Regions from separate parts of the Homo sapiens genome. Here region 1 is linked to region 2. The links come from fine-mapping of genetic effects on gene expression. A gene starts in region 2. The other region holds a variant in brackets. All regions are shown on one strand. Distances are between the middles of the regions.

The links. PIP is the estimated chance that this variant, and not a neighbour inherited with it, causes the effect. A credible set is the group of variants that fine-mapping cannot tell apart.
Region 1: its variant is the best candidate, but not a certain one, in a credible set for the expression of CAPN9 in tibial nerve (GTEx, PIP 0.76).

The regions. Positions count from the first base shown.
Region 1 is chr1:230,848,613-230,865,199 of GRCh38, reverse strand. C1orf198 (chromosome 1 open reading frame 198) reads left to right here. Exons shown (of 4, transcript NM_032800.3): 2 at 9,482-9,532. Among named protein-coding and RNA genes, the nearest start is that of C1orf198, 12 kb to the left of the region's middle. RefSeq lists enhancers at 8,759-9,958, 12,965-16,423. The variant T/A (reference allele first, on the strand shown) is at 5,794.
Region 2 is chr1:230,738,890-230,751,759 of GRCh38, reverse strand. CAPN9 (calpain 9) reads right to left here and starts at 4,372. Exons shown (of 20, transcript NM_006615.3): 1 at 4,051-4,372. The coding sequence starts at 4,263. It also overlaps a transcript of AGT not described here. RefSeq lists an enhancer at 1-1,067.

The sequences.
Region 1 (16,587 bases), 110 kb before region 2:
TCTTAAGGGGTAGTTTGCCTCTCTGTGAAGTCTGGTGGCAGAACCAATGGCTCACAGAGTTTCTTTCCAACTCGCTGGTCTGGCTTGGAGCAGGCCCAGACACTGGGGCCGTGCACTTTGGGTCCAGTATTTTGGTAAGAACATTAAGGCAGGTTTGCAAATGGATGCTTTTGACAGTCTTTCACCCACGCTGCTTGATTGCCACGTTCTTCCTCCAGCAGTAGGGTTTCGGGAATGGCTTAGTTTGGGAGGGGAAAAGTTTTTATTTTAGAGGGATCACCCTGTTTGCTTCTGCTGTTTCCTGTTATCTGCAAGGAGAAAACCCCACACACCTCTGAATTGTTAGGAATGTGTTCCTCCCTGCTCCTGCCCCCAATCTTCTTGTCACTGATCTAGCAAGATCTGAGTACATGGTGAGAGTTACAGGGTTCTGCGTTCTGTGATACATTCTTGGCTCCAGATGGGCCCTAAGCAGATGACTGGGGGAGCTTTGGCAGCTGGTGCGTCTTGTTCGCGTGGACCTACTTGCCTCTTCCATCTCTCCATACGGTGGAGCTGGGCAAGAAGGGTGTTTCAATATCCCTAATCGGGGTTTCACATGTTGTGGAACGTGGATTTTTAAAGAACCCGGAGCCAGACAGCTCTGTCCCCTCTTCAACAGCTTGGCATGATCCACTGCCGTGTCCCTCCAGTGCCTTCATCTCTGCTCCTCCTACAGGAACCTGAGGACTTGCTGTTGCTCTCTTATTCCTCTTGGCCTTAGCTTCCTTTTCTGAAGCTGTTTTTGCCTCCCTATGTCTGCTGCATTGCCTGTGGCTTCTTAGTCCTTAGGCTAGAGGCGGCTATGGGTACCTATGTTTAGCAAACTGCTGAGCTGCTACACCCGCTCTGTGTCATTAGGGCTACCTGCAAAAGACCTTTCTGCAAACCTAGGGGCCTGTGTGCTGGCCAGCCTAGAGGTTTGCTTTCTAAAATAAACCAATTTATTACAAAAGTTTTTACCTGTACATTATTGTTAAAAGTTTCAAACCAGGCAGAAGGAGCATTATAAAACAGCTGGTAGAATCAATCGCTTCAGAACTTTCTTGAGCCTTACATCTTTGTTAGATTTGAGTTTGGCTGCTGTGTGGCCTCTCAATGCAGGACCAATGACACATGAAGTTTCCTCATCCCCTTTCCCTTTAGTAGACTGGCCTTTTCTTTTTGAAATCTGACATTAAAAAAATAAAATAAAAATAAAAAAAAGGAAAAAGAAAATTAGGGAGTTGCTTTCTCAGCATTTTGGACTCATTTTTTAAGGAAGGTGGATGTTTGAATTATGATTCCCACCTTGTGCCTGCTGTATCCATGGATGTTTTAGAAAGGATAGCAGGGTTTTCTGAGTCCCTCTACCTGGGGCCCTGGGCAGGAGTTGAGATGGCCCTGCTTCAATTCCAGTTCCACGGGCTGAGAGGAGAGGGCGGTCGGGCCTGTTCTGTGAGCTTCCCTTTTATGTTGTGGGTTCTCTGCCCTGAGTAGCACGTGGCCTGCTGCCCTGGGAGCTCAGGCAGCAGCTTAGGCCTCTCCTCCCCAGGCACCTCTGCCTGCTGGCTCCTGTGGGAGGGTGGCCCAGTGGCAGCCAGGGAACAGGTTTAGCAAAGAAATGAAGTGACTTGGTCACAGACCTGCGGGGAGGGAGGGCAGGAAGCATGGCGACAGGTGTGGAGTCATCTTTTAATTGATAAGAGTCACTTTTACACTCTAAGCAAGGGATTCCCATAGTACTGGAGAAAATATCTATTTCTTCTTCTTCTTCTTCTGAATAAATGAAGGAAGATGAGACCTATTTGTTTAGACTTCCTGTCATATTTTGCTCATTTCTTTAGCATTTCCTCCACCTACTCTGTATCCTGTTTCCATTACCATGCTCATGCTGAGTTTTTGTTTTGCTGTAATCTATGGAGGCTTGAGTTTCTGGATTCGTATTCATGGTGGAAAACATGCCCCATGGTTAAATCAGGACTGTTTTTCTGTCTTTGCAACTGCAGTGTTGTATTTCCAGTTATGGAAACCCCCTTATCTCAGCAGAGTTAAAAATATTACAAGTCAAAGGGAAAAGCATGGATTCCATAAATATGTAAACAATGCTTGCTGAAAATAAGCAGTTGGTAAAAAAAGAACATATTTTAATCATTCTTCCTTACTCTCCTCTTTTTGAATAGACTTAATTTTTTAGAGCAATTTTAGATTCACAGCAAAATTGAGCAGAAGGTACAAAGTTCTCATTGCCTCTCTGGCTCCCACGCTACAGTGGTGCATTTGTGACAGCTGATGAACGTACATGGACACGTCGTTACCACCCAAAGTCCATAGTTTAGGGTTCACTCTTGGGTTGTCCACTGTATGGATCTTGACAAATGAATAATGACATGTACCCATCACTATAATATCACACAGAGGAGTTTCACTGCCCTAAAAATTCTCTGTGTTCCACTTACTTATCCTTCCATCCCCCCAACCCCTGGCAACCAACGATATTTTAACTGTCTCCATGGTTTTGCCTTTTCCAGAATGTAATATGGTTGGATTCATACAGTATGCAGCCTTTTGAGATGGGCTTCTTTCACTTAGTGATACTCATTTAAGGTACTTCCATGTCTTTGTATGGCTTGGTAGCTCATTTCTTTTTCTTGCTAAATAATGTTCCATTGTCTGGATGTATCACAGTTTACTTATCCAATAACTGAAACACATCTTGGTTGCTTCTAAGTTTTGGCAATTATGAGTAAAACATCTGTGTGTAGGTTTTTTGTGTGGACGTAAGTCTTCAGTTCATCTGGGTAAATGCCAAGGAATGTGATTACCTCACTCCTGTAATATATTTATTTGTGGAGGAATAAATATAGAAATAACTATAGCAGAAGCACAGTTGTGCATGGAGCTGTGGTTGGGAGGCCCTCAGTTGGTCAACATGTCCAGGGTGCTGTCATTATCAGTGACAACAACCAGTGTTGTCACTCGGTAATTAAACCTTACAGTTGATCCACAGGACAGGCTCTGGCATCTCTGAGGGAGTGATGGGCACGACACAGCTCACCAGGAACAACGTGTTCCACCCTGGATGAACCAAGATGGCCAGGCCACCTGGCATCACTACAGGGTGACACACTCTGCAACCTATGGGACTTTCTGTCCTGCTCACATGCTCTGCTCTCTAAGCCTTATTTCTCTAGCTTATAGAATTTCTCAGTTTACATTTCTTACCTTCAAGCCAAGATGCCACAGGTGTCAACCAGAAACTCTCCTTATTTATGGATTTCAGGAAGACGATGACCATTTCTGGCATCAATACGCGTGTTGCCGTGTTCCAAGATCCTGATGCTGTTTTAGAATCACCCCAGAAAGCCCCTCACTCCCCGCCTAGCTGTTTTTCCTGGAACAGCTTGTGGAGGCCCTAAGGGAGCCCCCATGCTGGACAGCTCCCTCTGCAGGCGCTATCCATCCACACACCAGAAACACTTGCAGAATGTGATGAATATCAGGATGTTTGTTATGGTTGTAGCCTGTGGTATGCTGGAGCCGGCTCTGGGGGAGTGAGGCGAACTAGCCCTGACTTCTAGCATTTGCTGGTTGCCATGACCAGATACTCCACCATGGCCCGTTGCACGCTGTTGGCGTGACTCACGGGATGCATATCTGGGCACCGCGCTATATGGTATTTCCACCTTACACATACAATGGATGCAAACAACCTTAAGACCATGGATAATAGTAACTGTATTGAAATGATGAGTTTCTAGTGTTTATTACTTTTTTTGGGGGGGGCACACTTTAAAAAAATTCAGTTTTTACAGTAGTTTTAGGTTCCAGCAAAATTGAGCGGAAAGTACAGAGAGTTCCCACACAGACCTTTCCCAAAATGTACACACAGACGTGCATATGCACACAGCCTTTCCCACCACCAACATCCTAAACCAGAGTGGTGCACTGATTACAATCAGTGAACCTGCATTGTTTTTATCATTGTCAACCGAAGTCTCTGGTTTACACTAGGGGTCGCTCTTGGAGGTATACGCCATGATGGTATCATACAGAGGGGATCCATTGCCTTAACAGAAATCCTCTGTGTGCCACCTGCTCATGCCTCCCGCCCCCCAGGCTCTGGCAGCCACTGATCTTTTTACTGTCTCTGTAGTTTTGCCTTTTCCAGAATATCATATAGCTGGAATCATACAATATGTAGCCTTTTTAGATTGGCTTCTTCCACTTAATAATATTCATTTGAGGTTCCTCCATGTCTTTCCATGACTTTTTATTGTGGTAAAATACATACAACATAAAATTTACCGTTTTAACCACTTTTCTGTGTATAGTCCGAGGCATTTAGTACAGTCTCAATGTTGTGCAATCATCACCACCATCCATTTCCAGAACTCGTGTATTATTTAAAGTGAAACTATATCCTTTAAACAATGAAACTCTGTATATATTAAACAATAACTCCCCATTTCCTGGCCTCAGTCTCTGATAACCTCTATTCTACTTTCTGTCTCTATGATTTTGCCTACTCTAGGTACCTTATATAAGTGGAATCACATGATTTTTATCCTTGTGTCTGGCTTAGTTCACTAAGCATAATGTCTTCAAGGTTCATCCATGTTGAAGCATGTATCAGAATTTCCTTCCTTTTTAAGACTGAATAATATTCCATTGGATGGATAGACCACATTTTGTTTATGCATTCATCATCTGTCAGTGGATACCTGGTTGCTTTCATCTTTTGGCTATTGTGAATGGCACAGCTATAAACATCGGGGTATAAGGATCTCTGAGCCCCTGCTTCCAGTTCTTTCGGGTGTATACCTAGGAATGAAATTGCTAGAACAAATGGTAATTGTATGTGTAATTTTTTGAGGAACTGCCGAACCGTTTTATATAATGGCTGCATCATTTACATTCCCACCAAGAGTGCACAAGGGTTCCAGTGCCTCCACATCCTACCAATACTTGCCAGTATCTGCTTTTTGATAGTAGCCATCCTTGTGGGTGTGAAGTATATTACCTTTATTTTTAATACAATGGACTTAATTGCAAGTTTGTATAATTCACCTTTTTAATCACAGCAGTTAAACAAGATATTTAACAACAGGTTCAAGAAATTCCTCAAAATTTTACAATCAGCTCTCGTTAGTTGGTGCAGGCCTGCTCCAACACACCTCTGGTTGCAGCCTTGCAGCCTCCAAAAATAAAAGTGTCTAGGAACCACAGAGTTCTTAAGCCCTCCAGTATCCATTTTTTTTATCAACAAGTAAAGAAGTAAACGCTGGCGATATGATGCAAACATGTATTCCAGCACTATGAGCAAAAAATATATGTTATTATTTTTAATTCTGTTTCATTTAGGATTTAGGAGGTGCACACTGAATTGAATGAACATTTCCCAGAGAAGAGCAAATACTCAAGGTCTCTGGGATGTTAGGGAAAAAGATTGTTTGTGTGTGTGTTTATCCCGGAGTCCTTGGAGCTGCGTGGGGACTGGCAGAGCCTCTTACATGTAGCGCTGGCCTCTGATAATTGCCAAGTGCTCTGTGTTTCTGGTGGCTTTCTATAGCTTCCCCCCTGCTTTTTGGCTTTCTGCTCTGGGATTTGGTGACCTGGGGCATCTTTCTGTTCTGCACTCCAAAGAAGTCATTGTTTCTGGAGAGATTCAGTGCTGCCCATTTGGTATGGATGCCTCTTACGGAATTTGACTCTGAGGATAAGTCCTGGCCAACAATGAAGCCCACTCTCTTGTCGTGTGGCCTAAGTAACAGA[T/A]GTGTTTTGACACTTAGATGATTTCAGATCCTAGGCGCCAGAGAGGGGGGTGGGAAAGCCTTCCAAGCAGTCCTAGAAAAAGCATATGTGATTGGTCCAAAAGCATGTGCCTGGCCTCATTTTGGTTGCAGGCTGGTCACCATGGGAGTAGAAGAAAGGACAGCATTGTATGCGTGTGAGTGGGTGCCGCCACTTTGCAATTCTGATTCCATTTGCATCCAACAGCCCAGGGAGCCTGTTCTTGCCGCCAGTGCTTTTTTGTGGCTAGAGCGTGCAGTCCACGGCTGACATCAGAGCTTCCATCACATTTTTGTTTGGCATGTTTATTTTTGTTAAGCACTTTATTGTTTTTTATGAGCTCAGAATTACAGAAACCCAAGGAATCTGCCCCTTGACTTCATTTCTTGCTGGAGCAAACAGAAGACTATTGACTCGACACTAAGTAGGGGAGAAATCACAGTGTGACCCTTTCTCCTCCTGTGACCCCCTTGGAATTTCAGCTAATATGGGTTGCAGTCACTGGAGAGTTGACTGTCCCCAAGCTCTGGGCTAAGTCTTCGTTCCTCAGAGTGTTGTATTGAGCCACCTTCCAAAGCCAAAAGCCTTATTATTTTAATCTTTGCAGATTTCAAAGGGACTTAAGGTATATAATTAATATTTAGAATCATATCGAGTAACAGGGGAGTCCAGCTCCATCATGCCCCACCCTGGCCAGTCAGTGGTCCTGCCCTCTGCCTGCCCCGCAGGTGTTCATGCACTTCCTCTTTCCATTTGGGTGGCCAGTGGCCTGTCTGATTCTGGATGGAAGGAGCACCTTTGCCAGTTGATTTCCATTTACCTTTTTCGAAAGATCCAAAGCTGGATCTCTACTCTACCCTGTGGATGGCCGGTTCTTCCTCCTGGAACTAAGAGCTGTGAAGAGCCGGTGAAGTCTTAGGGGGTGTGTGAGTGTGGGGTGTGGAGGCTGGGGAGGAAAATCAACCTGTGAAAATATCCAGGCTTGTGCAGAGATCATTTATTCACGAAGAGTTAATGAATGATTAACTAGAATAAATGATACTTACATTCCATCAGCCTCTTTTATTTTTCCCATGTGAAAACAAAGCCCTTCTTGGTTTGATTGCTTCTAAACGGAACTCAGAGGGTTCTGAGGATTTTAGGGACTTTGGTTATTTAGCTCAACTGTACCCCTAGCATGCACACAGAGACGTGGACAAGGAGCCCCCTAGAGCTGAAGGCTGGCCCTCTGCCTCTGCTAGGAGACATCTAATCACAAAGCCTTGGTAACTCACATTCCTCCAGGCATCCATTTCCATTTTTGGAGGAATGAAGTTTGTGCATTGGGAAGTGACTTGAGTTTAACTGAAATTCCAAACAAAAAGGCAGTGGTTCCTCTCATTTTTAAAGGTTTTGCTTGACAGCCATGAGGCACTGCATACCAATCAGTTCAGAAGTCAGGATCATAAGCAAATACCATTACAGGACAGTGACTGTAACACTCTGAGGATGGGGGTCATCTTACTGTGCACATGGTCATTAGTTGCACACACTATGTGGTTCTCAGAACTGACTGTTTGATACACTTTAATGCAGCTTAACCCAGTTTGTAGGGCTTTTCCCTCACTTTTGTAATTCTTAATATTTATACCTAGTATCTTTGTTAGTGGTGTTTTTTTTCCTGATATAAATATATTTAGTCCTTTTATATGCTGTCCTGGGAAAATAAAGACCTGGATTCTGGCCTTTTGACAGTCTCCTCTCTGGGTTTTCCTTGCTCTTTATCCCCAGCATATGTGAAGTATTTGTGCCACAAATGTACCAGCCTCTACTGCACAGAGCCAAGGCACACAGCACAGCCATCAGGACACAGAACCAGATCTCTACCCTGTTGATGGCTGGCTCTTCCTCCTGGGGCCAAGAGCTGTGAAGAGCCTGTGCCCCCACATTGGGAAGTCTTGGGGGAGTGTGAGTGTTGGGAGCGGGTGATTGTGGGGGAAAATCAACCTGTGAAAGGATCCGGGCTTGTGCAGAGTTTGTTTATTCACATATTCTCAAAGAGTGAGTAAGCGTCCGCTACGGGCAGTCGCTGAGTCTTCCGGGCACTTGGGATAGAGAAGCGGACAAAGGCCCTGCTGTGTTGCCCCTGTCATCTAGGGTTGGCCGTGCTTGGGCTGTGCTGGGGAGTCATCACACACTTCCTTCCCTGTCCCCGCTTCTTGGGAATAGGCCTTCAGCTGCCCAGACCCTGGCATGCCTTCGTTATTTGAGTTCAAAGACTGACCTCCCACTGGCTGTTCATGTTAGGAGGCGTCTGCACAGAGAACGCACACTCGGGGTCTGGAAGGCTGAATGTGTACACTTATGTGTTGGTGAGGCACTCCCCCTGCGTGGGCCCTGGCATTTGCCCCCAGTGTCTGAGGCTAAGCTAGGGTGGCGGAGGCTCTGTCAAAAGCTGAAAGAAGAGGGTCTGTGGGCAGAACTGGTTTGCCCTGTAGAGGAGAGGGAAGCCAGACCCTTGACTTAGGGGCGCAGAGTCGGTGTACCTATGGGTGGGAAGAAGACAGTTATCCAGGGATACTTACGGAAGGACATAAATCACCTGGAGTTTTGGGGAGATATGGATATGATCTCCGTTTAAAATATTTTATCCCATTTTAGCCTGTATCACCCAATGTGTCCTGATTTTTTGTTCTGAAAATATGCTCCCAGTAGAAGCAGTCAGACATGGTGCACACCTGTAGTCCCAGCTGCTCTGGACACCCAAGGCAGGAGCATCCCTTGAGCCCAGGAGTTTGCGTCCAGCCTGGCCAACATACTGGGACCCCATCTCTTAAAACAAACCAACAAACAAACAAAAGTTACCCAATCGAAGCTGGACACAGATGAGACATTTGCTAGCACAGGAATAACTGCGGGTAGAGGGTGGGATATAAGGAAAGGTGGCTTCCCCAAGTCATTTGTGCAGGCCAGTGAACAAAACATACTGGATCCAAGGTCAAATTCGTAGTGATTGTTCTATAGGGCTCTTTCTGTCCTGTTCTGTTTGGTGGGGGTGGGGAGTGATTTCAGAGTTCTTGTTATAATTAGTCACATGGATTACATTGGCGTTTTTCTTCATTGATTCTGCTGATCCATGCCCTCGAGCTCTCTGGTAGGCCTGTTGGGGAGGAGGGGAGCTCCTGTATTGGCATTGACTGGCAGATTATGGCTTGGCGTTCTTTTCCCAGATTACCTCATTTAATCCTTACAACAGCCCTGCAAGGGAAGTATCATTTTGCTTTTACAAATGAGAAAACTGAGGCTCAAAAAGGCTGAGTCATCTTCCCATGGCCACACAGCTAATCATTGTTCAGGGCTGAGTCTGTGCCTGATTCTGCTGAGACCATCAAGCCCTCATCCACTCCTACTCATCTCATCTGTCTGAGTCCATTGGGGGGCCTCACCGGCATTCCCTGTTGTCTGTTTGGCTGGGGAGGGGAGTGTCTGGCAGCCTCAGCGGGAAAGATGAGGGAGCAATCTGATCAAGACGGTCAGCGCATTATATTGAGAGTGTCAAAGCATCAGGCTTGTTTAGAGCCAGGAGTTGGGATTATTCCTAAGTTTTGGTTCCCCCACGGTCCTGGGTGGATATTTGCATGGGGTATGTCTGGGTTTGAATTTCAGACTTATTCTCGATTTTTTATTTCAGGATCTAACTTGGCAAGATGAGCACTCTGCCCCTTTCTCCTGGGAAACAAAGGTAAGTTGGATTAAATTTAGATCTATTTGTTCTTTTAAAAAGAACTGAGTAGTTGTATATTTTTCTTTCAGCATTTGATGGACTCAGAAGACAGCCCCCTGACTGCCAGGCTGCAGGGGATGTGTCCATTGTTGGTAGAAAAGGAGGGGATGGGAGGAGCATGGTGAGGAATTAGGAAACTATTGTGTGTGGTTTGGTGATAGTGAGTTCAAAGTAGTAGTGCTTTCTGCCAGGGTCCAATGACGCCCCATGATGCCCATTGTCTAGGACTCCCGGCCAGCTTGGTTAAGGGGGCCAGCCCTCTTGGGGGCCCTGTCTCTGCTCATACCTCTGGTTCCCAGCACTTAGCACCTTGATGGGAGATGCCCCATAAGACAAAGCTTTGAGCAAATGGGAGGTGACGAGCTGATTGATAGACATAGACATCCATTTAGCTAATTCATCCCAACGTGGATCACTAATTCTGTCTCCCAGTCATTCTTCTTCTCATCATTATCATCATCATCACCAGAGTTGCTTAAGAGCATCAAGCTTCACTGATTTTAATTCATTTTCCCCATCTCCTAAGTTGCCCCAGTAGAAGTACATTCATAAGCAAAATGACTAAAAGACAGGTGTCTTTAACCCAAGGGACAGAAATAAAAGACCAAGATTTTCTGAATTCTGGAACATTTGGTGATGTGTGTTGGAGGGTTCTTTACGTCATGAGAGTGTGTTACAGACAGAGACGGTGGTGAGCCTGGAATAGGGCTCGGACTGCTGGGCAGATCAGGGTTTTTAAATACTGATACCTCAAGGCACTTGTTTTTTGGTTTTTCACTTGTCCACATCATTGCTGATCAGAGCCCTCATCCCAGCAGGAGACCTATGAGGAGGGTGGGCCAGAGTGGTTCATGAAGGACCCTGAGAGGCCCTCATGTTGGCGACTGTGTCTTAAAATGAAATATTGCCCAAGGGTTCAGATGGACACAAGGACAGCTGACACTGTTCTTGGCACACAGACAGTATTTAGTAAGCTATTGCCGATTGCCCTGGGTGAAGTGAGCTGGCCTCAGGGCGTGGGAGCGTGGGACAATTGAGATGAGTGTTAGAGTTAAGAGGTGGTTTTGGGGAAGGCATGGCATTAATGTAGTCTCCCTAGGGATCGGGTACGGGTTGCAGGGGTGACCAGCACTGTCTTGGGAGAGAGCACAAGATGTTAAGGAGCCGCCTGCAATTGGAATAGCTTCTAAATCCAACACTGGATCCTGTGTCTACTGACATTGCAAAGGAAGTCATAAGTGGGTAAAAAGTGCATCATTACATTGATTCTTAGCCAGGGCCCTCAATATTCCTCTTCTATGGGCTCCCAAAATGGGTAATTGTGAGAAGTACTAATCCTATAGATGATATCTAGTGGTAATAGCCAGATAGATTCTCTGTGTGTTGGAAATGAGCAGCCTTGGGTATGGTGACCCAGAAAGCAGTGCAGATTTTCCTGGACTGGGTCTATATTTGAAGATATCATAGTGATAAAGGCAAAGGAAAGTAAAAAATAGTTAAAGTGTCCTAAGACCTAAGCTCATCATGTTCCCCACGAGAACATCTGTTCTCTTAAGAATTTAGCTTGTTAAATGTTCCTGAATCAGCTATTTGTGGGACAGGACATTTCATCTTTTATTAACTTGGCATAAATGACATTCTGGGACAAGGTGGTGCAGCTCCTGGAGTGGCCACTGATACAAGCACAGCTGCTGGGGCCAGAGTGGGAAACAGGTGCCTGGCGAAGATCTCGAGAAAAAAGAGAGCAAGTACAGTCCACTTGAATCACACTTGTGCTGAGAGGCTCATTGTCCACAGATGCCAGCATATCTGGTCCCTTAGGAACCAGTGTAAGTTGAGGAAGCTTGCTAAAATCTGGTTAATATGTGTCACCCATCAGAAATTGCATCCTTTTAGTAAAGTGTAGTCTTCATAGCTCAGAGTTGGCAGTTTCATTTCATACTCCTGTTAGATTAGAGTTCCAGTTTGTTTCACAAACTGTTGGGCTCACTCTGTGTCCTCACCTTCCTGTTTGATCTCTCGAGGTCAGACTTACTATAGTTTACTATTAGAAACGTCTAGGGGCAAAATAGAGCGTATCTCAGAGAGCAAGGGAGCTGTCCCTTCCTCCTTCTTCACTAGGCAGTGCCGAGTTTTAAAAAGCCCATCACTCATTCCTCCTTTGTCTTAACCCTGGAGTGCCCTGCCATCCTGCTTGAAGAGATTTGCCAAACTCTTCTTAGGACTTAAAGGCTTATAAGATCTTCATTGGAGAGCCACAAACAGGAGGTGGCTTTAGTGAAGGTAGGACCCCCTAATCTCCAATTGCAGGACTGGAGGGAGACTTGGACCCCATTTCTTGTTACCTCTCAACTGATGCCTTCCTCACTCTATCAGTTCTCTATAGATGCATAACAAACTTAATGGCTTGAAGCAGCATTTTATGTGCTCATGATTGTGTGGGTCAATGATCGGAGCAGGGCTCAGCTGGACTGTTCTTCCGTTGGCCTTGCCTGGGATCACTTATGTGTCATCTGATCGCCTGATGGGAGCTGGGTGCTCTGAGAACCTTGCTCACGTGTCTGGTTGGTGCTGGCTGTTAGCTGGGCCACATGTCTCCAGCAAGCCAGCCTGGACTTCTTCACACAGAGGTGGAGAGATCCGTGTGCGGGAACGGAAGCCTACGAGGACTCTTTTGAAGCTTAGGCTGGGCAATTGCATAGTATCACTTCTGCTCTGTTCTGCTGGTCAAATCAAGGCACAAGCTGGGCCAGATTCAATGTTTGAGGAAAGAGATTGCACCTCTTGATAGAAGAGCTGCAGAGAGTTTGCACCCATTTTAAATCTAAGATTGTATGATGTCATTCATTCCTTGGTTAACCTTGGCCATTTCTTTCCATTTTTAATTAATCACTCATTGATTTTTTTAAGTTTTATTTTTAATTGTGGCAAAATACACACAACATAAAATTTTCCATCTTAATCATGTTTATGTGTATAGTCTGGTGGCATTCAGTACATTCACATTTTTGTGTAAACATCACCATCATCCATCTCGAGAACTCTTTTTAAAAATTATTACTTTTTAATTGACAAATGAAAAATTGTGTATATTTATGATGTACAACAAGATGTTTTGATACGTGTGTACATTGTGGAATGATTAAGTCAAGCTAATCCACACCTCCAGAACTCATCTTGCAAGACTGAAACTCTGTTCCCATTAAAGAATGACTGCCCCCCACTCTCACTAGCCCATGGCAGCCACCATCTATTTTCTGTCTCTGAAATCATTCATTGATTTTTTTTTTCCAGTAGATATTTATTGTATACCCCGTTTATGTCAGACATTATGCTGCAGGCCCAGAGTTGAGCATATGCCACTTCTGTGCTCGAACAACAGCTCAGTGAGTGGACAGCTGTGTTTGGTGGCAAATCTCACTCAGCACAAAAGCTATAGCCACCGAGTCACTCCAGTCATTTTCTCCATACGTTTAACCCAAATTTGTACACATGTTGGGTAGATGTAACCTCATGCCCTTCTTCAGCTATTCAGTTCAACAGACATTTAGTGGATGCCAGCAGAGTGCCCAGCTCTGACTTCTCCATCCCCTGACGAATCTACCTACACAAGGGTAAGCCTGACCCAAGGTCATGGCCATGGGCAGAGTTAAGAATCGCAGGGATTTTTGGTTTCTCACCCAACTGCTGCACCTCTGTATGGGTTCCTTTCTCTTGGCCAGCCCATGACCATTCCACCTCCACAGAATGAGCTGCGGTTGTGCTTGGGACCTGTGGTCGCTGCCCCCATGCAACGCAGCTTTGATCAGGAGAGCTCGCTGCAGCCTCACAGTAGCAGCTGTGCACCCACCTGGTTTTCCAGCCTGTCCACCCTGCCTCGGTTGCCTCCTCTGAGGCTGATCGTGGCTGTGGTGCCTCTGTTACCCAGACTTCTTCCATCACAGAAGGGAGGCCTGCCTGTCCCAGAAGGGTGGGGGTGGTCGTGATTGTCATCTTTTCCACTCATCTATCAGCTTGGCAGGCGTGCCAGGGGAGAGGGGGCCAGTGGGGACCTAATGTTGCATTCCTGTCTCATGCTACTGCTGTTTCGAGAGGAAAAAACTCAGCACTTAGAAGGCTCCAGACAGGAGGAGGCAGGGAGTGGAGAGAGGATTCTTTACATTCCCCAGGCGGTCTGGGCTGGAGAATTCAGAGGAGAAAATGCCTTTGGGGCAGGTCAGGCCCTGCTTCAAAGTTGGCTGGGCTCTTGGGACCCCATCCCCAGCCTTGGTTGGCTGGGCTCTTGGTTGGCTGGGCGTTGTGACCCTGTCCCCAGCCTTGCCCCTCCCCCAAGCTGTCTGGCTGCTTCTCCTTTCTGGCTACCCCCTTCCTTCACCTGATGTCCAGCTGCCTATTAGGGCAGTAAGTAGGTTGGGCTGGGGATCGGTTCCTTGATTTCATGGGTATCAAAAGATCTTGGGGGGCTAATATAGATCATTCCCAGAGTAGGGAAGCCTTCCAGACGCCTCCTTGGGAAGATACATAAGCATTTATGAGCACAGGCCCTTCCTCTGTGCTGTGCCCATGATAGGGATGTGTGTGTACTCTGAATTCTTTCACCCTTGGGAGGCTGGTGTCCCTGTTCACGCTGTGGGTCAGGACACCGGGATGCAGGGGGTCAGGTGCCTGGCAGGTCGAGTGGGCGGAGAGCAATTGGAGCTCAGGTCTATCTGTGACTTTCGGGGCTTTGCTGCCCATGGTGGGACAGAAGGGCTGTTCCAGCAGGATGTTCCTGGACATAGAGGATTCATTGGCTCTGCTCAATGGTTCCTCCTCACTACCAGTCACGGGGCTTCTGAGAGGCAGGACACCATGGGGCTGCATCCACCCACCCGCAACTTGGTCTCTGTGCTTCTCACCGAGACCCCCATCTCTGCCCAGCAGTCCCCTCCCTCCCTCCTGCCCTTCCTCTGGGCTGTGCCTCACCCCTTCCTGAGACAACAGCAGACCCCTGTGTGCCCCTGCTCTTGGCCTTTCCCTGCTCTCCATGTGTGTGGGACGATGCGTCACTCGCTCAGCCCTGCCCTCAGCCCTGCACTGCCATCCCACAGGCTCTGTTCTCACCCACCTCAGGGACCATGTTCTCTTGGACCTCAGTGTTTTGCTCCGTCCCCTGACCCCTATCCACCTGAGAAGGCCCCACTTGCCCTCCAGACTCAGCACAAATCCTCTTTTAACAGTTGTCCCAATCAGGAATCTCACCACGTGCCGGGTCTGTGCTGAGCACCCTCCCTGCATTGCAGAGTGTAATCCTCACAGCAACCCACCTTACAGATGAGGAAACTATGGCATAAAGTGAAGATGTGAACCAGGCAGTCCTAAGCCCAGTGCTGGGCTCTTAAGCCCTATGCAGCTTCCAGAGTTACCCTCTTCCCTGTTACCGTTAGGAAGCACTGTGATAGAGGAAAAATGGGGATCATGCTGATGAATTCCTTGTTGGTGCGTCTTTGTCCCTGTGAGATGATGAGCCCAGAATGGCAGACACAATTATTTGTCCCTTAACCTTGACAACCCTGGGGACTGGTGCACCTCTGCACCCATTTCCTGTTGGGCCTCAGCTGAGTTCTCCCTGGCTGGTGTTTTTTGCCTTAGAGGCTGACGGGGTGGATGTTTGTTTGCTTACGTTCACGCCCCGTCTCTTTGGGCCCCTGGGTTTGTCCCTGTCAGCTGCCACTTCTACTAAATTTGTGATTCTAAAGGTTTTTAGTATCCTCCTGCTCATCTTCCTCCTCTTCCCTCTTTGGAGGGGAGGTGGGAAGAATAGATGTTAAGTGGTTGGTGAATGTATTAGGATTTGCTCCAGTAAATGATGATCTTTTCTGACAAGGCTTCTGTAGCCTTTGTCTCAACAATTTAGATCTGTCCGAGGCTGCCAAGCCAAACAGTTAGTTTTGGCAGCCTGCACTCGTCTTTTACTGAAATATTACACATTCCTCTTCAGTGAGTGGGACGTTAAAAATAGACACTGGGCTCGGTTGTGGTCCTTCTGTTTTTAGAACAGACATGGCCAACTGAGACCCAGTTCCCCGCATGGGGTGACTGACGCCCAGCCCTGGCCTGGCTGGAGGGAGTCCTCCCAGCAGAGCCTCCGTGGGCACTTGGGACATTGAGGCTGGGCTGTCAGTGTTGCCGTCAGGAGGGACGGCTTCCTTGTGGACTCTCCTATCTCCCCTGTCTCAAAGACTATAGAAGACCACTAAGTTGCATCCCCAAACCCCGGCTTTCTGTCTGTGGCCAGCGCCCATGAGTTGGCGTCCCATGGCCCATGGGTTCCTCCCCTTCATGAGCCTCATCCTCCCGCCAGCCCTGGCTCCCTGTTGCTCAGTGCCGTGGGAGAGGGCTGGCATGACCTCCTTTCTCAAGAGCCCAGCTCTTTTTCCACACCTGTAGAAAATGGACTTTTGTTCTAGGAAAGTCTAGGCTGTGCCCTGGACTGGAAGAGATGGGGAGTGGCCAACAGTGTGGAGTCACCGAAGCAAAAAGCAGTAAAACTTACTTTGAAATGGCAAAAGGGGCTCTGCCTTCCTATGGTCTGCATGTCGGTGTGTCTTTGAAAATGAGCTTGGAGCCACTTTTCGCTCTGTCCTGGTGCTGTGTGCACACATACCAGTACAGGTCCCCCCTGGGTAGAATGAGGTCCCTGGGCAGGATGGGCTGCAGTTCCTGAGAGATGGGCTTGATCTCCCCTGGGCCCCCACCTGGCCCTGCTAGAGTCTGTTTTTATTATAGTTCCTGGAGTTTTTAGAGCTGAGCAGAGTCGGATCTAGACAGGAAAAAAGATTCTTCCCCTACCCCAAAAGGTTTGTGTTTAGAAATTCTAGATGACAAACCCTTTTCCTTTGGGGAAAGCAGTGGGGAAGAGGCCTAGCACCCAGCAGGGTGATGGACAAGGGCAGGTTTTTTTTCGATATACAATATTTTGAAATATTGATAGGGTACATGTGATATTTTGTGAAATCAGAGACTGTATGTTC
Region 2 (12,870 bases):
TCATCGGGGCTCAGCCGAAGACACACTTTCCTCTACTAAGCACAGTGAATAATTCACAAAGGGAAAAGCCACCCTTCTTTCTTTCTTTCTTTCTTTCTTTCTTTCTTTCTTTCTTTCTTTCTTTCTTTCTTTCTTTCTTTCTTTCTTTCTCTTTCTTTCTTTCTTTCTTTCTTTGTTTCTTTCTTCTTTCTTTCTTTCTCTTCTTCCTTTCTTTTTTTCTATCTTTCTTTCTCTTTCTCTCCTTCCTTCCTTCTTTCCTTCCTTCCTCCCTTCCTCCCTTCCCTTCCTTCCCTTTCCCTCTCTCTCTTCCTCTCCTTCTCTCTTTTTCTCTTTCTTTCTCTCTTTCTTTTTCATTCATTCTGTCTTTCACATGGCCTTCCAGTGAAGAAAAGCCACATTTCCAGCAAGGTCTGGAGATGCCAGACGCTGCTGTTCATAGCTATGTGCCGATCCCTGTCATGTGCCCAGCACTGTGGAGGCCATGGGGCCTTTGGGGCTGTCCCAGAACAACTGACAACCCCTCCTGGGGGTCAGGGGAGCAGCACAGGGAACGGCAAGCTCACCGTGCAGGAGAGGCTGTGGTCACATGCCACGCTGTGCACAGGTCTGCCACAGGGGTTGTTCACATGGGCTAGAGGGGTGTGGGCACTTTCGGGGAGGTGTCCTGGATTTACACTGAGAATTGGTGGGGGGGAATTGCCTGGCCAAAAATAAATGGGTACAGGCAGACAAGGAGGGATGGACTGCATGGTGGCTGTTCCCCATCAGGCTGGGAGACCTCACCCGATACTCCCTCCTCCTCTTTCTGTGCACCCACTTCCACTCAGGTCCACAGTCCCTTGCATGAGACCTGGGGGTGATCTCACCTTCTCTCCAGGTTGAGCCTATCACCCTCTCTGCCTCCCAGCCCCTCCCAGCCAGTTCCCTGAGTCACCCTCAGTGCACTCCTTGCCCTGGGCTCCCTTGAGGGCAAGCCTGGCTGTCCACTGCCCTCCAATGTCCCCTTGGCTTTGTGCTCTGCCCACCCTCCCCAAGTACAGCTGTGTTTGACAAGAAGGTGGTGCTGAGGAGGAGGGCCGTCCAGCCCCACGGTCCCACGGGCTGCTGAGATGTGCACCGTGTAATGCTGAGTCCCACTGCAAATGATGCCCAAGCCACAGAGGTCTGCAGGGAACCTGGCAATGCTTGTGATTTCCCTATGGCCCGCTACCCCCCGGCTCCCTGCGACTCTATGCTGCAAGAAGAGTCTCCATGCTCATCCTCAGCCCTTTTGTTCCTGATTTTACAGAAATCTGTAAGATATGATGTAAAGCTTCTAACTCCCCTAAATAAGAAACAGATAGGGGTACGAGAATGAGGACCAGACCAAAGGGACAATCTTCAGTTGCAGACAAAGGAAAAGGCAGAACAGATTCTGAAAATGAGTCTGTGGGAACGACAGCAACACAGTAGACCTGGGTTAAGATCAATAAAGGGTCTGCCGTAGGTGGAGACAGTGGGATGAAGAAGGGACAGAGGGCTGGTACAGGGGCATGGGCTGGGTGGCAGGTCGGGGTGCATCTTGGCAGGGGCTTGTGTGTATCAAGGGCCCTGGCCTGTGGATGAAGGCCTCACCCAGCGTTTGGGGCAATGCCAGAGGAGATAATACTAAGGAAGACAGCCCCTTGGAGCAGAGATCTGGGACTCTAGAGTCGCTGGGCAGGCCTTGGTGGCCCTGGTCCCAGGAGGGGAGACTTCTGAAGGGGGAGACAAAGATGCCCTCCATGCTGGTTTGTGCGTCCAGCTTTTATCTTGGAGAATTCTAACTTTGACAAAAAGTAAGTGAGTTGTAGAGTACAGATTACACTTTAAACTAGATGATGTCAATATAGACTGCAAGGATGGGGGCCCTCCTAGAGTCAGGAGACGATGGTGTTAGGTTACAATGACAGCAGTAGAAATAACAAGGACCAGCACTGATTCTTTACACACCAGGCTCTTTGCTAAGTGCTCTACTCATGGTAACGCAGCTGACCCTCATGAGGACCCCATAAGTTGCATTATTGTCCCCATTTTAAGGAAGAGAAAAAGTGCTTCCAACCTTTTCATATCAAGTGCCTGTAGAGAACATGAGCATCTGTATGAAACCCTGGATCAAACAGAAAGAGCCGCTGCTTCTGGCCAGGGGCTCTGCTCACCAGGGGCCCAGGAAATCAATTTCTCTAACTCTATTTCCCAGGGCTCCTGACATCAACTGCAGGGAAATCTCTGCCCACAGTTAAAAATGCACCCACAGCCTGCAGCCTGGGCAGCTGCCCACGCGCCCATTTGTTCATGCGCCGAGGCCGGAAATAAGCCCAGGGAGACCTAATGGTCGTGGGCGGTGCCCCTCAGAGGGTCACTCTTTTATGTCTTGTAACTTCTGCTTTTTTAGTTTGGAAATGTCCTTTTTCTTACTTAGCAGAGCATGACCTACTAATCCTGTCTGTAAAGTGCAACCCCACGTGATCTGCCAGTGCCGTGACCTCACACTGCAATTGGCCATATGCAGAGAACCAAAAACAATCACAGCGTGGCTTCGGTGAGGAAGGTGCCTGGGAGCTTTCACCCCAACTCCGATAGGGCCACTGAATGCTCACTGTGATTTCCCCATGAACATGGCACCTTGTGGGATCAATTACCTGGCAGGTGAAGATCAAAGCACCTGTGTGCCTATGCATGCAGTCACCCACCCCCCACATACACGCCTATGCATATCCACACACATGTGCACACAGTCACACACATGCACATACACAGTCAAATTCCTACACACACAAGTGCGTGCACACACATACACCCCACACTGCCTACTGCAGGAAATAGCAATAAAACCCTTACCACTTCGGAAACACCCACTTAGGTTCACTTTGGCCCTGCCCCTGAAGAGCCCAGAAGTTTTGTGAATGTGCGTTAAAAAAAATTGTTTTTAATCATCAACATTATTTTAATGTTGGGAGATAGTGAGGAGGTAGTTATGATGAGTCCTTTGCTACTCATATGTAAGATGAGACTCAGAGCTAATAATCATTGTAATGATGATAATAATAGTATCAGTAATAGTAATAATGTGACAATAGCTGTAATGTACTGGAAACCTTCTGTGTGCTAGACATTGGCCTGCATTAGCCATTATTGTTCCCATTTTACAGGTGAGGAGACTGAGGCTCAGGGAAATGAAGTGATATGACTATATGCATGAGACAAATTGTCAGGATAAGACAGGCACTCAGGATCTCACTTGTAGGACCAGCATCCCTTGTACTGCCCCTCCTTGCCCAAAAGCAACCGGACCCCACAGGAGCCACTCCCAGGCCCGTACCCACCTGGAGGGAATGGAAGCCAGCCCAGCTGGCGCCGGGTCAGAGGTAGAGCCCTGACTAATCCAGCACCGCAAATATTGACATGGCGTCCCAGGCACAAGCTAGCACCTCTTGGGACCCAGTGACCAGCTGGTGCCTCTTGGGACGACACCTCCAGACTGTCAGAGGTGGGGCACTGTTCACCCTGATCTCTGGGAATGGGGGGTGCATGGTTCTCGGGAGAAGATTCCTGCTTCCCTTGTATTCCATCTGTCACCCGGTTGCTGAGACCTTGCTGAGCCAAACATCCATCCACACTGAGCACCCTCAGCTCTGGGCCAGAAGCCACAGAACACTGTGCATAACGTGATCTCAGTGTTACCACACACAGGGTGGGGGCCTGTCCTTGTGGATAAGGTTTTGATTCGTGCCTATCACCTGCTGACAAGACCCACTCTGACTCCAGGTCCTCAGCCTCGGTGGGAGTCAGACAGCTTGGAGCCGGGGAGCGGGTACAACCAGATGCCCCGGGTCCCCACCGCAGAGCATCCCAGGCCTGTACATTATTTTCTGCCTCCAAACTGCAAAGCTTTCCACGGTAGACTGGGATGATGCACCTCAGTTGCACTGAGCGTAGCCGGCCCCTCCCCAGCACCCCTGTTTCCACTTCCTGCGGGGGCTGCTGAACCTCGGCCTCATCTATGCTCCTTCCCCTGCTCGCCCCACTCACCCCTGGTCGTTTCCACACAAAGGGGATCTGCGGCCTCTCACTGTAGAACAGGGAGGAATTGCTGGCTGGGAAGTCTGCATCCTCAAACAGGGTGCCTCTCTGCAGGCACTCCTGCCTCATTTGCTCAAAGCTCTGGCCTGAGGAGTGGGTGATCCGGGCGTCCTTGGGAACCGGGTGTGCCTGAGGCCCTGGGGCCCGGTAGAGGTAAGGCATGGCTGCTCCCTGGAAGGCTGGCTTGGGTCCGGCAGTGGATGGAAAAGAAAGTGAAGAAGCGAGCTGTGTGTGCCGGTCAAGAAGGAACAGCTCAGAGGGCCACTGGGCTGAGTGGCCCTCACCTCCACCTATTTTCTGGGCACCTCCCTGTTAGACTGAGATGGGACACGCCCTGATGGAAAACAGCAGAGAGAGCCCTCTGCCCACTCTGCACTCCTGCAGACTCAGAGGCAGCTCTGGGGCCTGGCACATTCCACTCAGAGGCGGCACCTCTGCTTAGTGCGCTCAGGGGGCCTCATGGGAGAGAGAGGATTGCTTCAGAAGGAAAAGGAGCAAGAAACCCAACTGGTCCAGGAGGTGGCTTTACGGAGAAGTGCACGGTGTGGTCTTGAGTCCCATCTCCTGCATCAGAGAATGGCAGAGTTTTGTAGTCGGAAGGGAGGTTGGTGAATGAAAGCAGGATGCATTATGTGAACACAGCTGGCACAGCTCCTGCACAGGCAATCCCATAGTGATTCAGCACTGGGGTCAGCAAACCTTTTCTGTAAAGGCCCAGACCATGAATATTTTCAGCTTTGTGGGCCACGCAAAGTCTGTGCTGCAACTACTCAACTTTGCTGTTGTAGTGACAAAGCAGCCGTAGATGTGACACAGATGAATGGGTGTGGCTGTGTTCCAATAAAACTTTATTTACAAAGGCAGGTGGGGGTTAGATTTCATCCAACCTGACCCCTGATAGAGGAGAACTCACAGAGGACATCGGCTCTTCCTCTAGGGCACATGTGCCTCTTTCATTCTCTAGACATCATATTAATAAAGTTCCTTGTTGTTATAGTCCTACAAATAGGATCTCACGTCTGAGAAAAAACAAATGTTAGAGGATGGAGGTGGTTTGATAAATGTGTTTGCCCATAGAAATGATTATACAGGCTGGGTGTGGTGGCTCACACCTGTAATCCCAGCACTTTGGGAGGCCGAGGAGGGTTGATCACCCGAGGTCAGGAGATCAAGACCAGTCTGGCCAACATCATGAAACCCTGTCTCTACTAAAAATACAAAAAATTAGCCCGGTGTGGTGGCGGATGCTTGTAATCCCAGCTACTTGGGAGGCTGAGGCAGGAGAATCCCTTGAACCTGGGAGGTGGAGGTTGCAGTGAACTGAGGTCGTGCCACTGCCCTCTAGCCTGGGTGACAGAGAGAGACTCTGTCAAAAAAAAAAAAAAAAAAAAAAGAAAAAAGAGAGAGAGAGAGAAAGAAAAGAGAGAGAGAGAAGGAAAGAAGAAAAGAAATGATAAATACTGGAGGGGATAGATAGCCTAAATACCCCAACTCGATATCACACATTCTGCACATGTAACAAAATAGCACATGTACCCCATCAATACGTACAAATATTATGTATCAATAAAAATAAGTCAATAAAAGTATTAGTCACCACGTGAAAACTCTGATGTTCTAAGCACTTTATAATGATTTCTGTGTGATTCTCTAACTAGTCAAAGTTGAGGTTTGGAGACAAGGGGTCTTGAGTTAATGGGTACAGTTAAAAGGCCATGATGTGAATTTTTATATAAGCTCACAGTTCCCAGGAGTGTGCACTCAGTCTGACACACGTTCTGTCTAGTAGATCCTGCATATGGTTTTACAGGGGAGGTCTAGACATTAGAGTTGGGGATATTTGGGTTTTACTCTGCTATGGCCTGATTGCTTGTATTCCGCACCACCCCCCCGACCCCGCCAAAATTTGTATGTTGAACCCATACCCTGCAAGGTAATGGTATTAGAAAGTGGGGCCTCTAAGGGGTGATTAGGTCAGAAGAGTGGAGCCCTCATGAATGGGATTGGTGTCATTATGAAAGATTAGGTCACAGAGGGCCCCCTCCTCCCTTCCACCATGTGAGGACACAGGAACCAGAAAGTAGACCCTCACCAGGCATGGAATCTGCCAGTGCCTTGATCTTGGACTTCCAGCTTCCAGAACTGTGAGCAACACATTTCTGTTGTTTATAAGCCACCCTGTCTGTGCTGTTTTGTTATAGAAGCCTGAATGAACTAAGACAAATTCCCAGTTTTCCCTGGGGTGATCTTGGGCGAGTTATCCATGCTGTCTGTCCCTGCTTCCAAGCTGTGAATCAGGATAATCGGTGCTGCCTGCTAGAGGCATGGCGGGTTTGTGGAAGCAAAGCCACTTGCAAAGTCTGGCACATGGAGGGGATCAGGAGCTGCTGATTCCTCCCTTTCCCCTATCCTCTCTGCACCCCCTGCCACTCCCACAGATGCTGCTGAATTTCATGGTCTCCTTCTGAGCCTGACTTGCCTCAACTTGCAAGGCATCTCTTTTGTCTCTTTGTTTGCACAATGAAGGACTTTGGAACTGGGGTCCTCTGGCTGGGACCAGAGTGCAGTTCTGGCCAGTCCAAATGATTCTTGGCTAGAGATGATGGAGCTGCCCAGGAGTGTCCCATTGCCCACTGCCCTGGCAGACGGCTCTGTTTCGAAGTGATTAAGGAGGGCAACCTAGGGAGACAGGTGTGGCAATGTGAGGGCCATCCATTTCTGGTGACACCTCGGCAGGGAAATGATTACCAGCCCAGATCTCTGGGAGCATCCCCTTCAAATGCCCCAGCAACTGAGAAAGGACCTTGAAGTAAATTTCAGCACTGACCAGAACTGTAAAGGGTTTGCTCAGCACCAGACCCACTCCCAGCTTCAGGGATTTACGTTCTCATTCTCCTCCCGATACAAACACCTCTCCAGGCTGGGGTCTTGTCCTTCCACCTGGGACTTATCTATGTATTGGAAGAACCTGCCTTTTTCTTTAGAGTCTTAGTATAGTTGCTAGGTAATTGGAGAATTGCATCATCATTGTGAGTAAAACAAACATGCCTCAGAGTAGGAAACACACCAAAAAGGTTTAACAATCCTCCAGAACCACAGCTGGAATTCCTCCTGCCCCCTAACACTCTGGGACTCTGAGAATGTCTGCGGGAGGGAGTGCATTCTCAGGATTTACAGCCTCATCATTCTTCCTGCCCAATGTCTGCCCACAGAGCCCTGGGTCCATCTTTCCTGCAGAGCTCATGGCACCGGACTTCTCCATGACTTTGTCTTAGCGTCTAATCCTGCTCCCAGCTCAGCCCAGTGCAGGGCAGGAGCACGATGCACATTTGCTGAGTAAACATTGAACCAATGCCTCAAGAAAGCAGATGGCATTCTTGGGTGTCTTCATTTAGTTTTCCAAACCTTCACTTCTCAGGATGAACAATAGTTACAGAAACTGCAGCCATGCAATCTAAGGTCTACCAGGCCTTGCACACTTCCTCACCCACACTGGGAAATGCCCTGAGTGGCTCAGAGGGAAAGGGCTCTGAGCTTGGGCAGAGAATCATGTGCACTGTTTTTAATAAGCTCTGCCAGCTTGTCGCTAGCCTAGAGATGCAATCAGCTTTGAGCCAAGCGGGGGCCATGCATCATGTTAAGTGTATTTTCTTCTCTTTAGCAGAGCAATCTGCTGAAGTGATTTCTACATGAAATGAACCTGACCTGGCATCTGGGGCCTTCCTGGCCTCTCTTTTCTGTGCTGTTCTTTCTCTGTCTCCTCCACACTCAGGCCTGTGGCGAACTCCCTTTGTTTCTCTTCTTCTTGTTCATCTTGAAGGGCAGCAGGAGGTGAACATAGTGCCTGGGTGGCTCTGGGATGCCATGGGGCAAAACCCCAAGGACAAATGCTCAGAAGCTTCACATGGGTGCAGGGAGATGACCTCTAGGACCCCACCCGGTCCAGGCCTTACAGCAGGGCCTGGGTTTTGAGGGATATGCCAAACAGCCTGGATCCTGCAGAGGGATCTCAGCCCTATGATGGGCTGAGAGTGAGCCCACCCGGCTGCGACATTTGTAGCCCCTTGGCTTGCAGTGTGGAGGATGGGGTGGGCTGGCGAGGAGGGTGGAGAGTGGAGAGGCAGGGGACCTGCACAGGTGTCCAGGTGAGAGGGGCTGAGGCTAACTCCAGATGTAACCAGAGTGAAGGCAGGAAGGGACAGATTCTTCTAGAAGTACTGTCAGGGCGTTCTGCTGGGGTGCAAGGGTGGAGGTGTAAAGGTGGCGTCCTGCCTTCAGACTTGAGCAAATGGGTGATGGTGGTGACAGAAGGAGGAGAGGCAGACTTGGAAGAAAAGTTGAACACTTTGGGTATGTTAAGAGTAAGACGACTGCGTGCAATGGCTCACACCTGTAATCCCAGCACTTTGGGAGGCTGAGACAGATGGGTCACCTGAAGTCAGGAGTTCAAGACCAGCCTGGCCAACATGGTAAAACCTTGACTCTACTAAAAATACAAAAAATGAGTCAGGCGTGGTGGGGGTGCCTGTAATCCCAGCTACTTGGGAGGCTGAGGCAGGAGAATTGCTTGAACCCGGGAGTCAGAGGCTGCAGTGAGCCGAGATCGAGCCACGGCACTCCAGCCTGGGCGAGGAGCGAGACTCCATCTCAAAAAGAAAAAGTAAAACACCCCCCTACTTGCTGAAGGGAGTGTAAATTGGTGTCTCCTTTTTGGAGAACTATTTATGAATACCTCTCAGAGCTACCAATGCACCCACTCTGATCCAGCTGTTTCCCTTCTAGAAATTTATCTTTATCCTGATGATAGAGCCGCACCCCGAAAAGTGAAAGGTATACCAGCTTGCTCATTTCATGGTGGCATTGTTTACATTAAAAAAGGTTGGAAAGCACTTAGTGCCCTCTGTTGGGGGAATGGTAAAGAAAATTATGGTCCAGCTAATCATGAAGTGGAACAGTGTACAGCCATAAAACGGAACAAGGAAACTCTGCATACACTGATGTGGGAAGGTCCCTGGGATACAGTGTTCAACTGAAAAGTCAAAGTGGCCGGGTGCAGTGGCTCACGCCTGTAATCCCAGCACTTTGGGAGGCTAAGGCAGGCGGATCATGAGGTCAGGAGTTCAAGACCAGCCTTGCCAACATAGTGAAACCCTGTCTCTATTAGAAATACAGAAAATTAGCCAGGCATAGTGGTGGGCACCTGTAATCCCAGCTACTTGGGAGGCAGAGGTAGGAGAATTGCTTGAACCCGGGAGGTGGAGGTTGCAGTGAGCCGAGATGGTGCTACTGCACTCCAGCCTGGGTGACAGTGCGAGACTCTGTCTCAAAAAGAAAAAGAAAAAAGAAAATTCAAAGTGCAGAATGGCATGTAGAGTATGCCAGCATTTGTGGAGAAAGAAGGCAAAAAATATTTATTTATATCTGCATAAAAATTTCTCGGAAACTACACAAAGATCTACTCATAATAGTGGTTCTGTTTTCTGGGGGTAGGTGGAGTAGATGGGGGTAGAGGAATGTGGGGAGACTTTTCTATATGCCTTTTATATTTTTTTAGCTTTAACCCTATAGATTTACCTGGTTGAATTTTTTAAAATTTTATTTTAGAGTCGGAGTCTTGCTCTGTCACTCAGGCTGGAGTGCAGTGACATGATCATAGCTCACTGAAGGCTTGAACTCCTGGGCTCAAGAGATCCTCCTACCTCAGCCTCCCCAGTGGCTGGGACTACAGGTGTACACCACAACACTAGCCTTAACTGTTGTCGACTTTTAAAAGCCTAGTTTGAAACTTAAAGCCCACAATGATGTTTTGGCCTAGGTGGGCTCTGCCTTCCCTCCCCCGTGTATCTCTCCTCGCAAGATGTCTGTACATTTGCAAAGGAGCTTATCTGTCCTGAGGGCCACCCCCATTTCCTAGAAGATGAGAACTAGATCTTCACCCAGACCTTGCTTCCCTATCCATCCCCTCCCAAGGTCATTGGTAAGCCTGACATCAGGTGAGGGTCTCCCTTTCTTCATCCAGGGACTTGTCCATCCCTGGAACACTCCTAGTTTCACCCCTGTCCTAGTGGGCACTCATTCATGAACCATAACAAATCTTTTCTTCAGTGGGAATGAGCCGTGCTCAGGCATCACACCATAGGGTAAGAGCCATCTCCTGAAAGGCAACAGAGCACCCAGCCCAAATCTCCCCCACACTCGCTGCTCCACAGGGTGATGCCAGTCTTTGGCCTCAGCTGTCTGACTCAAGAGATCCCAGCTTGTAGGCGCATAGGCTCGTGGACGACCTGGTGGTTCCCCTGGTTTCCCAGGGCTGCACAAGCTGCCTATAGCTTCTCTCAGCTCTGGCCTTGCTTTCTGGCTTGATTGTGGAATATAGTTTCCTCCAAGGCCTAATCTCCCTAAGTAAGCTCTAGATCACTGCCCCTATGGCCTAAGGTGACACCGTTGAAATTGTACTTCCGTCCCTGAGAAGTAGTTTCACTCCTTAAACATTCATTGTTGAAGAATGATAAATATACCTGTCTGCCTTCTGCTAACTCTCTGGGATTTCTTTCCCTGGAGTTTGACCTCAGCCCAAGACGATTTCCTTTCTCCTTCTCATCTAGGAGCTGGAGGTTGATGCTATGCACAGATCTTAGGATGACTTGAATCACAGGTGCAGCAGGATAGGAATTTACTCTCCGCAGTTTAGGGCCCAAAAAAATCCTAATTTTTGAGACAGAGTCTCCTCTGTTGCCAGGCTAGAGTGCAGTGGTGCGATCTTGGCTCACCGTAACCCACCTCCCGGGTTCAAGCTATTCTCCTGCCTCAGCCTCCCAAGTAGCTAGGACTACAGGCGTGTGCCACCACATCCAGCTAATTTTTGTATTTTTAGTAGAGATGGGGTTTCACCATGTTGGCCAGGATGGTCTTGATCTCTTGACCTCATGATCCACTCACCTCAGCCTCCCAAAGTGCTGGGATTACAGGCGTGAGCCACCGCATCTGGCCAAAAATCCTAATTAAAAAAAATATTATCTCTTCTTGCCCTCTGGAGTCCCCAGTTACCACCTCGCACCAAAACTTGTATTTAGATTTTGTTGTGTGACACTCTTATTCATTTTAAAATGGTCTCTCTTACTCTATCTCTCTTCTTCTGTCTCTGTAAACTAGCAGTTACTTCAAAGTTCAAATATCCTGTAAGGTTTGTCAGAGGTGTTTGAGCCAGAATGTCTCCAACTTGAATAGGGGTTGGGTAAAATAAGGCTGAGACCTCCTGGCTGCTTTCCCAGGAGGTTAGGCGTTCTTAGTCACAGGATGACATAGGAGGTCGGCAGGTCACAAAGATACAGGTCACAAAGAACCCACTGATAAATAAAACAAGATGCAGTAAAGAAGCTGCCAAAACCCACTAAAACCAAGATGGCGATGAAAGTGACCTCTGTTCGTCCTCACTGCTCATTATACACTAATTATAATACATTAGCATACTAAAAGACACTCCCACCTGCATCATGACAGTTTACAAATGCCATGGCAATGTCAGGAAGTCATCCTCTATAGTCTAAAAAGGAGAGGAAGCCTTGTTTCAGGGAAGCCTCTGCCCCTTTCCTGGTAAACTCATGAATAATCCACCCTTTGTTTAGCATATGACCAAGAAATAACCCTAAGTATACTCAGTTGAGCAGCCCATACTGCTGCTCTACCTACGGAGTGGCCATTCTTTCTTTACGTCTTTATAAACTTGCTTTCGATCTATAGACTCGTCCTGAATTCTTTCTTGCGTGAGGTCCAAGAACCCTCTCCTGGGGTCTGGATCAGGACCCCTTTCCAGTAACAGGTCCACTTTTCCCCAAATAAGTGATCTTCCTCCTCCTTCCTCCTTCTGATAGTGGCATCTAGGTCAGGGTGAATCTTACCAAACCTGCCACTGGAGCAGGGACCTCTGGCTCTCTGGGATCTTCTTGGTTGAGGTGTCTCTGGGAACCAGCTTCTTTCCTTACGGTATTTGCTGTGGAGGGGTCACAGCTAGCATAACTTGTGTTTCATTTTCCTATCGGGGGCAATGCACCGTAATTACCCCGGAAGCTCAGCCTGGCTCCAACATTTCCCGTTAATGATGAGCCCTCCACCTGGTTTCTCTGTGCTTGCCGAACCTCAGAAACTCATTTGCTCTTCTCAGTGGTCCCCAGCTTTGGGCTCTCAGCTCTGCAGACTCTGCCACACCATCTCATGCCCTGCTCAGGGCAACACCCTGGTGGACAAGGTGACTCTTAATTCCCAGCCACCCCCCGCCCCATAGTGGAAATTGTGATTGGACATTTATTATTATTATTTTATTTTAGAGACACTGCTGGAGTGCAGTGGCATGATCATAGCTCACTGTGGCTTCCAACTCCTGGGCTCCAGCCATCCTTCTGCCTCAGCCTCCTGAGCAGCTGGGACTATAGTCATACCCAGCTAATTAAAAAAAAAAAAAAACCTGTAGAGGAGGGAGTCTCAGTATGTTGCCCACACTGGTCTTGAACTCCTAGCTTCAAATGATTCTCCTGCCTTGGCCTCCCAAAGTGCTGGGGTTACAGATGTGAGCCACTGCACCTGGCCTTATTATGTTTAATTGGAGGGAACATTGATAAAGTCTGTTACATAGTAGCAAGAGTATCCCTAACATGCCTTACCACTGAGAAATAAGATTCTTTGCTGCTGGAGGTGTGTGAAGTTTTTCTATAGCAGAAGGAGATGTAATTTTTTTAAAAGTCCTTTGACTACAGAGATTTTTATATTGTCTGT